4 separate regions of the Homo sapiens genome follow, and all the other regions are reported to be linked to region 2. Evidence: microRNA targets listed by miRTarBase, many of them from high-throughput screens and not tested one by one. Region 2 holds a microRNA gene; each other region holds the end of a gene's coding sequence.
What was found. Region 2 holds the annotated microRNA hsa-miR-4485-5p (ACCGCCUGCCCAGUGA, at 2,004-2,019, shown strand). A microRNA usually pairs through its seed, bases 2 to 8, with sites in the 3' UTR of a target mRNA and lowers its output. Matches are read on the target gene's strand: a 7mer-m8 pairs with bases 2 to 8, a 7mer-A1 pairs with bases 2 to 7 and ends in A, and an 8mer does both.

Region 1: the mRNA of ZNF566 is a reported target of hsa-miR-4485-5p. Seed matches in the 3' UTR shown: 7mer-A1 at 183-189.
Region 3: the mRNA of CCDC69 is a reported target of hsa-miR-4485-5p. Seed matches in the 3' UTR shown: 7mer-A1 at 2,631-2,637.
Region 4: miRTarBase lists NIPAL1 as a target of hsa-miR-4485-5p. Seed matches in the 3' UTR shown: 7mer-A1 at 686-692.

The regions. Positions count from the first base shown.
Region 1 is chr19:36,446,173-36,449,283 of GRCh38, forward strand. It overlaps ZNF566 (zinc finger protein 566), which reads right to left. Exons shown (of 5, transcript NM_001145344.1): 5 at 1-3,111. The coding sequence ends at 2,805. Among named protein-coding and RNA genes, the nearest start is that of ZFP82, 29 kb to the left of the region's middle. RefSeq lists an enhancer at 2,879-3,111.
Region 2 is chr11:10,507,213-10,510,323 of GRCh38, reverse strand. MIR4485 (microRNA 4485) reads left to right here and starts at 1,998; the gene lies at 1,998-2,054. It overlaps AMPD3 (adenosine monophosphate deaminase 3), which reads right to left. Exons shown (of 15, transcript NM_001025389.2): 15 at 2,745-3,111. It also overlaps the pseudogene MTRNR2L8. RefSeq lists a silencer at 908-1,202.
Region 3 is chr5:151,180,826-151,183,936 of GRCh38, reverse strand. CCDC69 (coiled-coil domain containing 69) reads left to right here. Exons shown (of 9, transcript NM_015621.3): 9 at 323-2,885. The coding sequence ends at 500. Among named protein-coding and RNA genes, the nearest start is that of ANXA6, 25 kb to the right of the region's middle.
Region 4 is chr4:48,036,010-48,039,009 of GRCh38, forward strand. NIPAL1 (NIPA like domain containing 1) reads left to right here. Exons shown (of 6, transcript NM_207330.3): 6 at 1-3,000. The coding sequence ends at 163. Among named protein-coding and RNA genes, the nearest start is that of NIPAL1, 21 kb to the left of the region's middle. RefSeq lists enhancers at 664-923, 944-1,003.

The sequences.
Region 1 (3,111 bases), not on the chromosome of region 2:
GGTAATATACACAACCTTTAAATATTATTCAGAAGAAAATTGACAGAGGGGAGGGAATGAGGAACGGAGAAGGGCAAAGATAATCATTTTTTCTTTCTTTTTTTTTTTTTTTTTTGAGACAGATTTTTTGAGACTCTGTCATGCAGGCTGGAGTGCAGTCAGGATCTCAGCTCACTGCAACCTCCGCCTCCCGGGTTCAAGCGATTCTCCTGCCTCAGCCTTCCGAGCAGCTGGGACTACAGGCACATGCCACCACGCCCAGCTAATTTTTGTATTTTTAGTAGAGATGGGGTTTCACTATATTGGCCAGGCTGCCCCCTGCCTTGGCCTCCCAAAGCACTGGGATTACAGGCGTAAGCCACTGTGCCCAGCCCCTTTTCTTTCTCTTTAATGGTATTGTTTCATTAATTTGGGTGCAAATGCACTATCTCTATAATTTTAGATGAAGAACTTTATAAAAGACATAAGCACACAAGAAAAGAAAGTAAACAAAATCTCATTTGGCAGTTTTCATTTTGATAACGCAAAACATTACAACAGTCCATTTTTAGTAATTCTCTCATTTGCAGGTATTTTTGCTCACTCTACTTTTCTCAAATTTATTATGAAATATTTTACTTCCTTATGCCAGTAAAGTAAAGTAACACAATGTTCAGAGAGACCCGTCTACACAGGATCTAAGAAAAAAGGAAGTGGGGCATAAAATAACAGTTCTACAGACATAAACTTCATCCTTCCACATATGCGATCTGTCCAGCGTGGGGAGCTGCTTGCTGAGCATGTTTTGAGCACAGGGAAGGCCCATTTCAAAACACTAACTTAACCCCAAACAAAGCTACACTGTGGACTTTTTTTTTTTTTTTTTAATAGTCTCATTCTGTCGCTCAGGCTGAAGTGCCATGGCGTGATCTTGGCTCACTGCAACCTCCACCTCCTGCATTCAAGTGATTCTCCTGCCTCAGCCTCCCCAGTAGCTGGGATTACAGGCATGTGCCACCATGCCTGGCTAAGTTTTGTATTTTTGAGTAAAAATGGGGTTTCAACATGTTGGCCAGGCTGGTCTCAAGCTCCTGGCCTCAAATGATCCTTCCATCTCAGCCTCCCAAAGTGCTGGGATTACAGGCGTGAGCCAAGATGTGTACTTCTATATAACTGAAATAGTTCCTTGAACATTTGATAAAGTTTTCCTTAGAAAGAAACTGGATTTGGTGCTTCATTAGTAATAGTTAACTGATCACATGCTAATTTTTCCCTGTTCTCTGTGTTTATGAGAGTCTTTGAAGAGTCCTAATTTTCTTGGAGTCAATATTGATGTATATTTTCCTTAAAAACCATTTTGTTTAAATTTTCAAACATATTAGAAAAAAGCATAATATTCAACAGAACCTTTTAAATCTGTAACTATGTTTCTATCTCTGTCCATTTTTTAAATATGATGCTGTTTCTCTTTTCATACTTTTTTTCCTCATTAGTGCACCAATATTTTGCTTATGTTCTCTTTTCTTTTTTACTGGGTATATAATGCGACAAAAAGAGTATTAGTCGGAATAAAGTCCTTCACACACATTATTCACAGTACTTTCCCCCCCAACACCTAGGATTATTTCATGTTCAATAGTAAGTACATGATGATGGGAAATTTTCTTAACTTGTTACCTTCAAAGGGTCTTTCTTCAGTCAAACACCCTGCCTAATGGTGACTAAGTTCTGCAGAAGTTAAAAAGCCTTTCTACAAATAATAATACTGATGATGATGAATATAATAACGATGACTAACATTCAGTGAGTATGTATTTATCATGTCAGGCACAATTCTAAGCACTTTATCGATCTTAATTCATTTAATCCTCACAAAGCATTATGAGGTAGGTATTATAATTATCCCCCATTTTATAATTTTTACTGAGACACGCATGTATATATGAACAGAAAAATGATCAGCAATAAATAATGAACTGATAAAGACTATCCTTTGGGATATGGTCAAAGGGTACATTTGCCTTTTTGTAATGTTTGCATCTTTTATAAGGAAAATATATTCACACATTACTTCTGCAATTAAAAGATATGATACAAAGATGTGCTTAGGGAGAATGTCCAGCAGGGACTTGTATTTTGGCATGTATTATGGCAAAATATCTAGAGGAGACTACGATATCCACCAATAGGATTTCATAAGTGATATTACAGTAACACAACAAAACACCATGAAGATAATGAAGAATCTCTATTGAGTAAAATGTCGTTCATGAACATTTTTACAATAAGAAAGCCTTAATGTTATAAAGAACAAAAAGAATAAGCCATCTTCAAAAATAAAGAGGTCACTTCTCCCAGGTACTAAAGGTATTTTTAAAATAGTATACAAATCAGGATGTAAACAGATGAAATTTATAGCCATATAAATTTAATATGGATTAAAATACTAAGAATGTAACAATTAGAGAAATTAGGGGAAAAAATGACAATCACAGGACTACATTTCTACAAAAATTCTCTGACGTTAAGAAGGTTAGAAAGGTGTTAAAAGTGCTGTCATTTTCAGTATGACAGACTGAATTATCTATCATATTGCTAGACTGAATTATCTGATGTCAAGAGAAGTAAGCGTTTAGTTAAGGGCTTCCAAAGTATATTCTATTCATAGAGTATTTCTCCAACATTATTTTTCCCAGGCTGAATAAGCTGTAGTCCACAAATAAAATGTTTCTACATTATTCTATCTAGAGGAATTATTAACAAGATAAATTCTGTTTTGAGCCATAATTAAAAGCCTCCCTACACATTTCATATATTCTGTTTCATCACCAGTACAAATTTTGATGCTGAATAAGTTGTGGGTCATAATTAAAGTTCTTTCCACATTCCCTATATTCATAGGGTTTCTCACTAGTATGAATTCTATGATGACTAATAAGCTGTGAACTCTGAGAATAAGCCTTCCCACATATCTTACATTCATAGGGTTTCTCCCCAGTATGAATTCTCTGATGTCTAGTAAGGTCTGAGCCAGAACGAAAAGCCTTTTCACATTCCTTACATTCGTAAGGTTTCTCACCTGTATGGATTCTTTGATGTTTAATAAGTTGTGAGCTCTGACTAAAGGCATTG
Region 2 (3,111 bases):
CCCCATACCCCGAGCCAACCAAACCCCAAAGACACCCCATACAGTTTATGTAGCTTACTTCCCCAAAGCAATACACTGAAAATGTTTCGACGGGCTCATATCACCCCATAAACAAATAGGTTTGGTCCTAGCCTTTCTATTAGCTCTTAGTAGGATTACACATGCAAGCATCCCCGCCCCAGTGAGTCACCCTCTAAATCACCACGATCAAAAGGAACAGGTATCAAGCACGCAGCAACGCAGCTCAAAACGCTTAGCCTAGCCACACCTCCACGGGAGACAGCAGTGATAAACCTTTAGCAATAAACCAAAGTTTAACTAAGCCATACTAACCCCAGGGTTGGTCAATTTCGTGCCAGCCACCGCGGTCACACGATTAACCCAAGTCAATAGAAACCGGCATAAAGAGTGTTTTAGATCAATTCCCCTCAATAAAGCTAAAATTCATGTGAGTTGTAAAAAACTCCAGTTGATACAAAATAAACTACGAAAGTGGCTTTAATGCATCTGAACACAGAATAACTAAGACCCAAACTGGGATTAGATACCCCACTATGCTTAGCCCTAAACTTCAACAGTTAAATTAACAAAACTGCTCGCCAGAACACTACGAGCCACAGCTTAAAACTCAAAGGACCTGGCGGTGCTTCATATCCCTCTAGAGGAGCCTGTTCTGTAATCGATAAACCCCGATCAACCTCACCACCTCTTGCTCAGCCTATATACCGCCACCTTCAGCAAACCCTGACGAAGGCCGCAAAGTAAGCGCAAGTACCCACGTAAAGACGTTAGGTCAAGGTGTAGCCCATGAGGTGGCAAGAAATGGGCTACATTTTCTACTTCAGAAAACTACGATAACCCTGATGAAATTTAAGGGTCGAAGGTGGATTTAGCAGTAAACTAAGAGTAGAGTGCTTAGTTGAACAGGGCCCTGAAGCGCGTACACACCGCCCGTCACCCTCCTCAAGTATACTTCAAAGGACACTTAACTAAAACCCCTACGCATTTATATAGAGGAGATAAGTCGTAACATGGTAAGTGTACTGGAAAGTGCACTTGGACGAACCAGAGTGTAGCTTAACACAAAGCACCCAACTTACACTTAGGAGATTTCAACTCAACTTGACCGCTCTGAGCCAAACCTAGCCCCAAACCCATTCCACCTTACTACCGAACAGCTTTAACCAAATCATTTACCCAAATAAAGTATAGGCGATAGAAATTGTAAATCGGCGCAATAGATATAGTACCGCAAGGGAAAGATGAAAAATTGCAACCAAGCATAATACAGCAAGGACTAATCCCTGTACCTTCTGCATAATGAATTAACTAGAAATAACTTTGCAAAGAGAACCAAAGCTAAGACCCCCGAAACCAGACGAGCTACCTAAGAACAGCTAAAAGAGCACACCCGTCTATGTAGCAAAATAGTGGGAAGATTCGTAGGTAGAGGCGACAAACCTACCGAGTCTGGTGATAGCTGGTTGTCCAAGACAGAATCTTAGTTCAACTTTAAATTTACCCACAGAACCCTCCAAATCCCCCTGTAAATTTAACTGTTAGTCCAAAGAGGAACAGCTCTTTGGACACTAGGAAAAAACCTTGTAAAGAGAGTAAAAAATTTAATACCCACAGTAGGCCTAAAAGCAGCCACCAATTAAGAAAGCGTTCAAGCTCGACACCTGTCATCTAAAAAATCCCAAACACATAACTGAACTCCTTGCACCCAATTGGACCAATCTATTACCCTATAGAAGAGCTAATGTTAGTATAAGTAACATGAAAACATTCTCCTCCGCATAAGCCTACATCAGACCAAAATATTAAACTGACAATTAACAGCCCAATATCTATAACCAACCAACAAGCCATTATTACCCCCACTGTTAACCCAACACAGGCATGCCCACAAGGAAAGGTTAAAAAAAGTAAAAGGAACTCGGCAAATCTTACCCCGCCTGTTTACCAAAAACATCACCTCTAGCATTCTCAGTATTAGAGGCACCGCCTGCCCAGTGACATGCGTTTAACGGCCGCGGTACCCTAACTGTGCAAAGGTAGCATAATCACTTGTTCCTTAAATAGGGACTTGTATGAATGGCTCCACGAGGGTTCAGCTGTCTCTTACTTTCAACCAGTGAAATTGACCTGCCCGTGAAGAGGCGGGCATAGTATAACAAGACGAGAAGACCCTATGGAGCTTTAATTCATTAACGCAAACAACACTTAACAAGTCCACAGGCCCTAAACTATCAAACCTGCGTGAAAAATTTCGGTTGGGGCGACCTCGGAGCACAATCCGACCTCCGAGCAACACATGCCGAGACTTCACCAGTCAAAGCGAATTACCACGTTTAATTGATCCAATAACTTGACCAACGGAACAAGTTACCCTAGGGATAACAGCGCAATCCTATTCTAGAGTCCATATCAACAAGGTGTTAGCTGGACAGACTAAAATAATACCCCGGGAAAAGGAAAGGAACATGTATAGCTTTGCTCATGAACTATAACAGGGTAGAAGTTAGAGAAAATAACAAAGGAAGATTTATCTTCTGGGTCTGGTGAGCTTCAGTTTGAAAATTTTGAGTTTTCCTAGTGAATGTCATTCATGTCGGAGTCTTAGTAAAAGATAAATTAGCTATTATTATTGATAGCTTTTCATGGTGCCCAATCTTAAGAGTAAAAATCTTTAACATTTGCTTTAAATATGATTATCTTTAAATAGTTTTAAACTATTGAGCCACAGTCCTAGCTGACTTTATTTAACAATTTAAAAAAAGATACTTGATACAGATAAAATGACAATGAGAAACTACACAATACTTCCTATGTTAGGGCAAATGTATATAAACGGGGGCTTTTCAAAACTAATCCCTAAGATAACAATGGATTTTCATTCAATTTCATAATTAGCTGTAAGATAGCATATATATCTGCCTAGTAAAAAGACTGCATTTATACTTCCATATGCTGAATTGACCAGTGGAGGGGACAGGCATTATAAAGTCACAAGATGAGACAATCTAAAGTCAAATAAGTTCACAGGCAGAAACTGGATTCTTCTTCTAACTATAATGATTCAAAAAGACCTCCTGTAGTCTGAATTTG
Region 3 (3,111 bases), not on the chromosome of region 2:
AAGAGCTGGGTCCTATTCTTCTTCTTCCCATTTTACAAATGAGAAGACTGAAATTTAAGAAGAATGAATAACTTATTCAAGATTATATAGCTAAGTGGTAGAGCAGAGATTTGAAGCAGCTCAGAACTGCCTGCCTGTCTGTGAGGCCCCCGCTCCTTGGTCAACAGATTGAATTGCCTCTTGTATACAGGCCAACAAGGAGGGCAGTGGGGACCCTGCAGCAGGCTGCTGGTCCATCTAAGGAAGGCTTCCTGGGGGAATGGGTTGGTCTCTGTGGCAGCTGCTCCCAGTAGGCAACCCTGGGCTCTGTGTGCATCCACAGGCAGCTGTCAGAAGACCTGCTTCTCACGCGTGAGGCCCTGGAGAAGGAGGTGCAGCTGCGGCGACAGCTCCAGCAGGAGAAGGAGGAGCTGTTGTACCGGGTCCTTGGGGCCAATGCCTCGCCTGCCTTCCCTCTGGCCCCTGTCACTCCCACTGAGGTCTCTTTCCTCGCCACATAGGGTGCAGGGCCTGGGCCCACCACGACGCCTGAAGTCACAGCTCCTTCCAAGGTTTTTCTGGAGAAGACAGCAGGAGCCTCTCAGTTCTTTTCCAGGAAGGAACGAGGGTGGGAGCGAGATGGAGATCCTGGGTGTGTGCCCAGTGAGCCCTGGGGCCTTGAGTTACATGGAATCACCCACAGGGTTTTGGAGGCCCCGAGAAGCGTCTTCCCTTGAGTTGGCCAAGGGAATAAGCAAGAGGAGACATTTCCTCCCTGCCCCAGCACTCTGTCCCAATCCGAGAAGTTCCGAGGCTTTCCCAGGGGCAGTCTGTGTCACGCTGGCCATTTGACATAAAGGAGACAGCCCCTGGTCCCAGCTTGTCAGCTCTGCTGCCGACTTGCTGACTTATCAACTTCCTCTAGGTGTTTCCACTCCACCCTGGCCTGCTCAGAGCCTCAGTTTACCCCTGCATTAAAATGGTGGGGGGACTGGTCAAAGGACTCTTATGTCACTGCAGTGTCCCATTCTAGGATTGTCTGAAGGCCAGAGTAGGGGTTGGGGGGAGTGTGGACAAACCCCGCAAATCAGAGTGGGGAAGGTGAGTGGTAGAGAGGGGGTCTCTGAAGGCCCTTGGGGCTGACAGGGCCAGGCAGCCTCCCCAGCTGAGGCATCATTCCTGGGCCAGAGTCGTGTCCACCAAGGGACAGTAGCCAGAGCTCCTCTTCCTTTACCAGGCAAGGTGCATCCCCTCAGCCCTCCTGGCCCTTCAGTCTTGGTGCCACCTGGGCACAGGGGCAAGCTTGGTGGTTGTGAGTCCATTCATCTATCAGAGCTGGAACCTCATCCCTGCACAGATGAGGAAACCAAGGCATGGAGCAGTTCCCAGAGTCGAATCTAGATCTCATCTGTCATCCGGGTCTTATCCTTTGCTCTGTTTTTCTCTTCAGGCTCTGGAAAATCAGATCTGTGACTTAATCTTCCTCTCCCTGGCCCTCACCCACTTAGTTTCTTTTTCATTCCTGCTCCCTGCCTTAACTCCTCCTCCCACTGCCCCTGATCCCAGGCCCAGGCTTTTACAACCTGGTGCTCAGCTTCCCCATCAGTGAAAAGGGGTGGCTAGAGTAACTAACCTCAGCAGGCCGTCCAGTCCTGATAGTCTGTGGATTTCGGATCCTTCTCAGGAAGCTTCATGTCTAATGGAGACTATAATTATAACTCCTGTTCTGCATAGAGCATTTGCATCAAAGGCTTTCCATACCCCTCCCTCCCCTGGTCCTCATAAGATCCTTGAAGCAGGTTCCTATTCCTCATTGGCAACATGGCAAACAGATCACAGGAGTCAAAGGGCCTTGCTCAAGGTCCCCAGCTTCAGCCCCAGGCCCTAAGCCAGCGTCAGAACAGTCAATCTGCATTTTTCATCAGTCATTCTATAGTGACATCATCCCAGACTGCCTTCTGTATTCCCCTGTGTACAGTCTCCTTCTGTTTCTAGGTTTAGAAGTTCAGAGGTGACTGTGTTTCTCCATTTCCACAGCCAAATGGGGGAAGAGGTGAGGCTAGGGGAGTGCTGTGCTGATTCTCCAGCCATGGTCAGACAGGTCACCCAGGAGCCTCGAGGAAAGCCCTGGAGGGAATCACATGTGTACTTTTTCATGAAGCTTTTTGCAAAGCACATCTGCGATACACTAGTTTATTGAACTAATGTCCAGGAGTAGACATGATTGGTGGCCAAGTTATTTGGGGACACCTAAACAGATCAGTGACCTGAATGACTTCTCAGAACCTTTAATATGCCAATGTGTGTGGCAAACTTACAAGAAGGGAGCTAAGTATCCAGCCTCTCCCAAACCTCTTTGAACAAAGCTTCTGTCCCTCCCACACCTCTCACCTCACAGGCACATCAGGCTGCAGAATGCGCTTTAGAAAGCATTGTTTTAGTCCAGGCACAGTGGCTCACGCCTGTAATCCCAGCACTTTGGGAGGCCGAGGTGGGTGGATCACAAGGTTGGGAGATTGAGACCATCCTGGCTAACACAGTGAAACCCTGTCTCTACTAAAAAAATACAAAAAATTAGCTTGGCGTGGTGGTGGGCGCCTGTAGTCCCAGCAGCTTGGGAGGCTGAGGCTGGAGAATGGTGTGAACCCAGGAGGCGGAGCTTGCAGTGAGCCAAGATCGCGCCACTGCACTCCAGCCCGGGTGACAGAGCAAGACTCCGTCTCAAAAAAAAGAAAAGAAAAAAGAAAGCATTGTTTTAATTGAGAGGGGCAGGGCTGGAGAAGGAGCAAGTTGTGGGGAGCCAGGCTTCCCTCACGCAGCCTGTGGTGGATGTGGGAAGGAGATCAACTTCTCCTCACTCTGGGACAGACGATGTATGGAAACTAAAAAGAACATGCGGCACCTTATTTATGTGACTTTTGTGTTTTTCTGGGAGGGTGGGGAGGTGGGTCTTCACAAGGACTTCTGCCAATGGTGGGGATCTCTGAAGAGTAAATCTGGGGCCTGGGTAGCCCACTCGTGGTTCTGGGCACTCTCCTCAAGCACCAAAGCCCCACTGGCCCTTGCTTTGCCCTAATTGTGGATGTGGGGCCTGGGGCTAGGGTGAAGCCTGGATTAAAGGATGGCCTTCAA
Region 4 (3,000 bases), not on the chromosome of region 2:
TAAAAATACTGACATTACTTGGAGTGAGCTTACATCCACTGCTAAGAAAGAAGCCGTCTCTCTGAATGTCAATGAAAACAATTATGTTTTACTAGAGAACTTGGAGTGTTCAGCCCCAGGATACAATGATGACGTTACCTTGTTTAGTAGAACTGATGACTGAAGTCTCTAGAAACACTGAGTTTTAACCAATATGAGACACACGAAGAGGAAAATGAATGCTTGCTTCTTGGAAGAACTGCTAGGAAAGTTAGCATTTTTGCAGTTCTAACTAATTTAGATGTGAGGCCAAGTAAAAATGCCATTTTTTTGGCCATTGAATTTGAAAATCAAATTGATTATCCTCCAGAATCTCTACAAACTTTGAAATACTCTCTAAGGATCAAAGAAGTCAAAGAGCTATGTGTGTCTCAGAATAATCTCCTTCTTCTGGTCACAGTATCTTTGTCTCTGCCAGGTGGCTCTTCATTTCTTTGGTAGCTATTTTTAGACTTACAGTCATTCACCAATATACAGTTAGCAGTGTTCTGATAGACACAGTATCAGTCATATTCTCCGTTGAGTCATAATTTCAAACTCAACAAGATTTCAGAAAGGTATAATCATGTAATTTCTCATATTAAAACTGAGAAGAGAGGCCAGGCATGGTGGTTCACACCTGTAATCCTAGCAGTTTGGGAGGCCAAGGCGGACAGATCACTTGAGCTCAGGAGTTCGAGACCACCTTGGGCCACAAGGCGAGACCCTGTCTCTACAAAAAATACAAAAATTAGCCAGGCGTGGTGGCACATGCCTGTAGTTCCAGCCACCCGGGAGCCTGAGGTGGGAGGATTGCTTGAGTCTGCGAGGTTGGGGCTGCCGTGAGCCCAGATTGCGCCATTGTGCTCCAGCCTGGGTGACAAAGCAAGGCCCTGTCTCAAAAAAGAAGAAGAGAAAGGGCCAGGGGCTTTTGCTTTAAAAAACTTTTTTTAAAACAGAAGTGAAACCACGGGTGCTTTGTTCTTCCTTCTGCACCTCCTTCTTAAACTAGATAGCTAATTAGTTATTTTAAGAAAAAAGAAATTTAAAAAAAAGCCTGCTTTATTTGTTAGTGGGCTAGAATACACAAGACATACCCACCCATGAAGAGTTTATGAATTGTAACTTATTGACATTATCATAGGAATTTACTACCAGTTAAAGAGGGAGAACGGAGGAAGAGAAAAATACTTCAGATAAAGGAAAAAGTTTTCTTCTCACAAAAACACAGACACGTGATTGTTTTCACAGGTTCCATTAATTAACTCAGGTCTGGAAGACATAGGACAAAATGGAGTTTCTGAAGAAGTCCAGGTGAATTCAGCTTTGGAGTCACTTATGTTCATTTTTTTTCCTTTTCTTTTACTATTATCCTAAAGGTTATTTTTCTTGTTGATATAGAGATTTTTGTAAAAGATTGCTACATTATTTCAGGATTATATCCTACATTTCGATTGCTCTCAAATGTTTTATCCCTAAAGAGTGAGTTTTCCACAGACTGTTTGGAAGCAACTAGAAAAATCTTTGTGAAAAATCTGAACAAATTATCATAATGGCTCTCTTGAAATTTTGCACTTTCACCCTTATTAAGGAAATTATAATTAGTTACTAACCTTTAAAAATAGATATATTCTAATAGGATAGAAAGTTAACTTCCTGGCAAACAAAATACTAAGATCTCAGGGGCTACTGCAGGAAAATACCTTTTTCGCACATTAAAATGTTTATAAAATTTTCCCCTCTCATTTCAAATGCATGGCAGGAATAACATTTTTGGTGGTCTTTAATGTGATGGACAGATTTACTGTCACTTATTGATTTTATGGAAAATAAATTGGCTATCTTATTTTTATAACAATCTTATTTTTCTCAAAACAAAAATCCTAACCAAAAAGTTGTCATTAAAAAAAAAAAAATTCAGGTAGACTGAATGTTTTTCTGCTCTAACCTTAAATGTTATTAGGTTTGGTTTTTGTTTCTAAGCTACTTCAAGACTACCTGAGGTAATAATGGTAAACTTTATTATTCAGAATTCGATTAAACTAACTTCAGCATTTCCACAGTTCTATTAAACAATGACTGATGTTCACAATGACAACCTACCTGAGATGGCTGCAAGGCCCTAATGTTCCATTATACATTATAGTCTTTTCAGCATAGTTTAGTGTTGAGTGCAATTCTAATGCATTCTACGTTTTTGAAAATCGATAATCCATGGAAGGTCCATGGGTTGATACCTCAGGTCAAAAATGTGTTTACTCTGTTGATTGCTGTTTCACTTTACTTGTATATCAGATATATAAGCTATGAACACAAGTTTGTAGTAAAAGTATCTTCTGTCTGGGCAATGGCTCACACCTGTAATTCCAACACTTTGGGGGGCTCAGGTGGGAGGATTTCTAGTCCCCAGGAGTTTGAGACCAGCCTGGGCAATAAACTAGACCCCATGTCTCTAAAAAATGTAAAAAACATCAAGAGGCTGAGTCAGGAGGATCATTTGAGCTTAGGAGTTCAAGGCTGCAGTAAGTTATGATTGTGCCACTGCATTCCAGCCTGGGTGACAAGAGTGAGACCCTGACCCAAAAAAGTATCTTCTGATAAAGTGGCATTTGAAAATTGCAGAAATTTTAATATTTTTTCTTTTAATATTAAGAACTTTATTGATCTCTCTAGGACACCTTGGTGAGGAAATTAATGGCACTTTTCTTGACATCCAACCTGGGACTCTGGTGATTCTGTGTTCTGGCGAATTTAAGTTTCAGACATTTCTTTGTGTCACCTTTTACAAGGTGTTTGCCCTTGGTACGTTATGACCAGGTCAAAGGTTCCCAAACACAAGGCTCATTGTGTACCCTGGACAGGAAATTGAACTGATGTTGACATGTATGCATGCCCAGGAGGAAGACTGGGAAAGATTTAATGAGTTGAAGTATGCTGAGAAACAATGAAATATTTGAAAACTGTCTACATAAAAGTTACTGA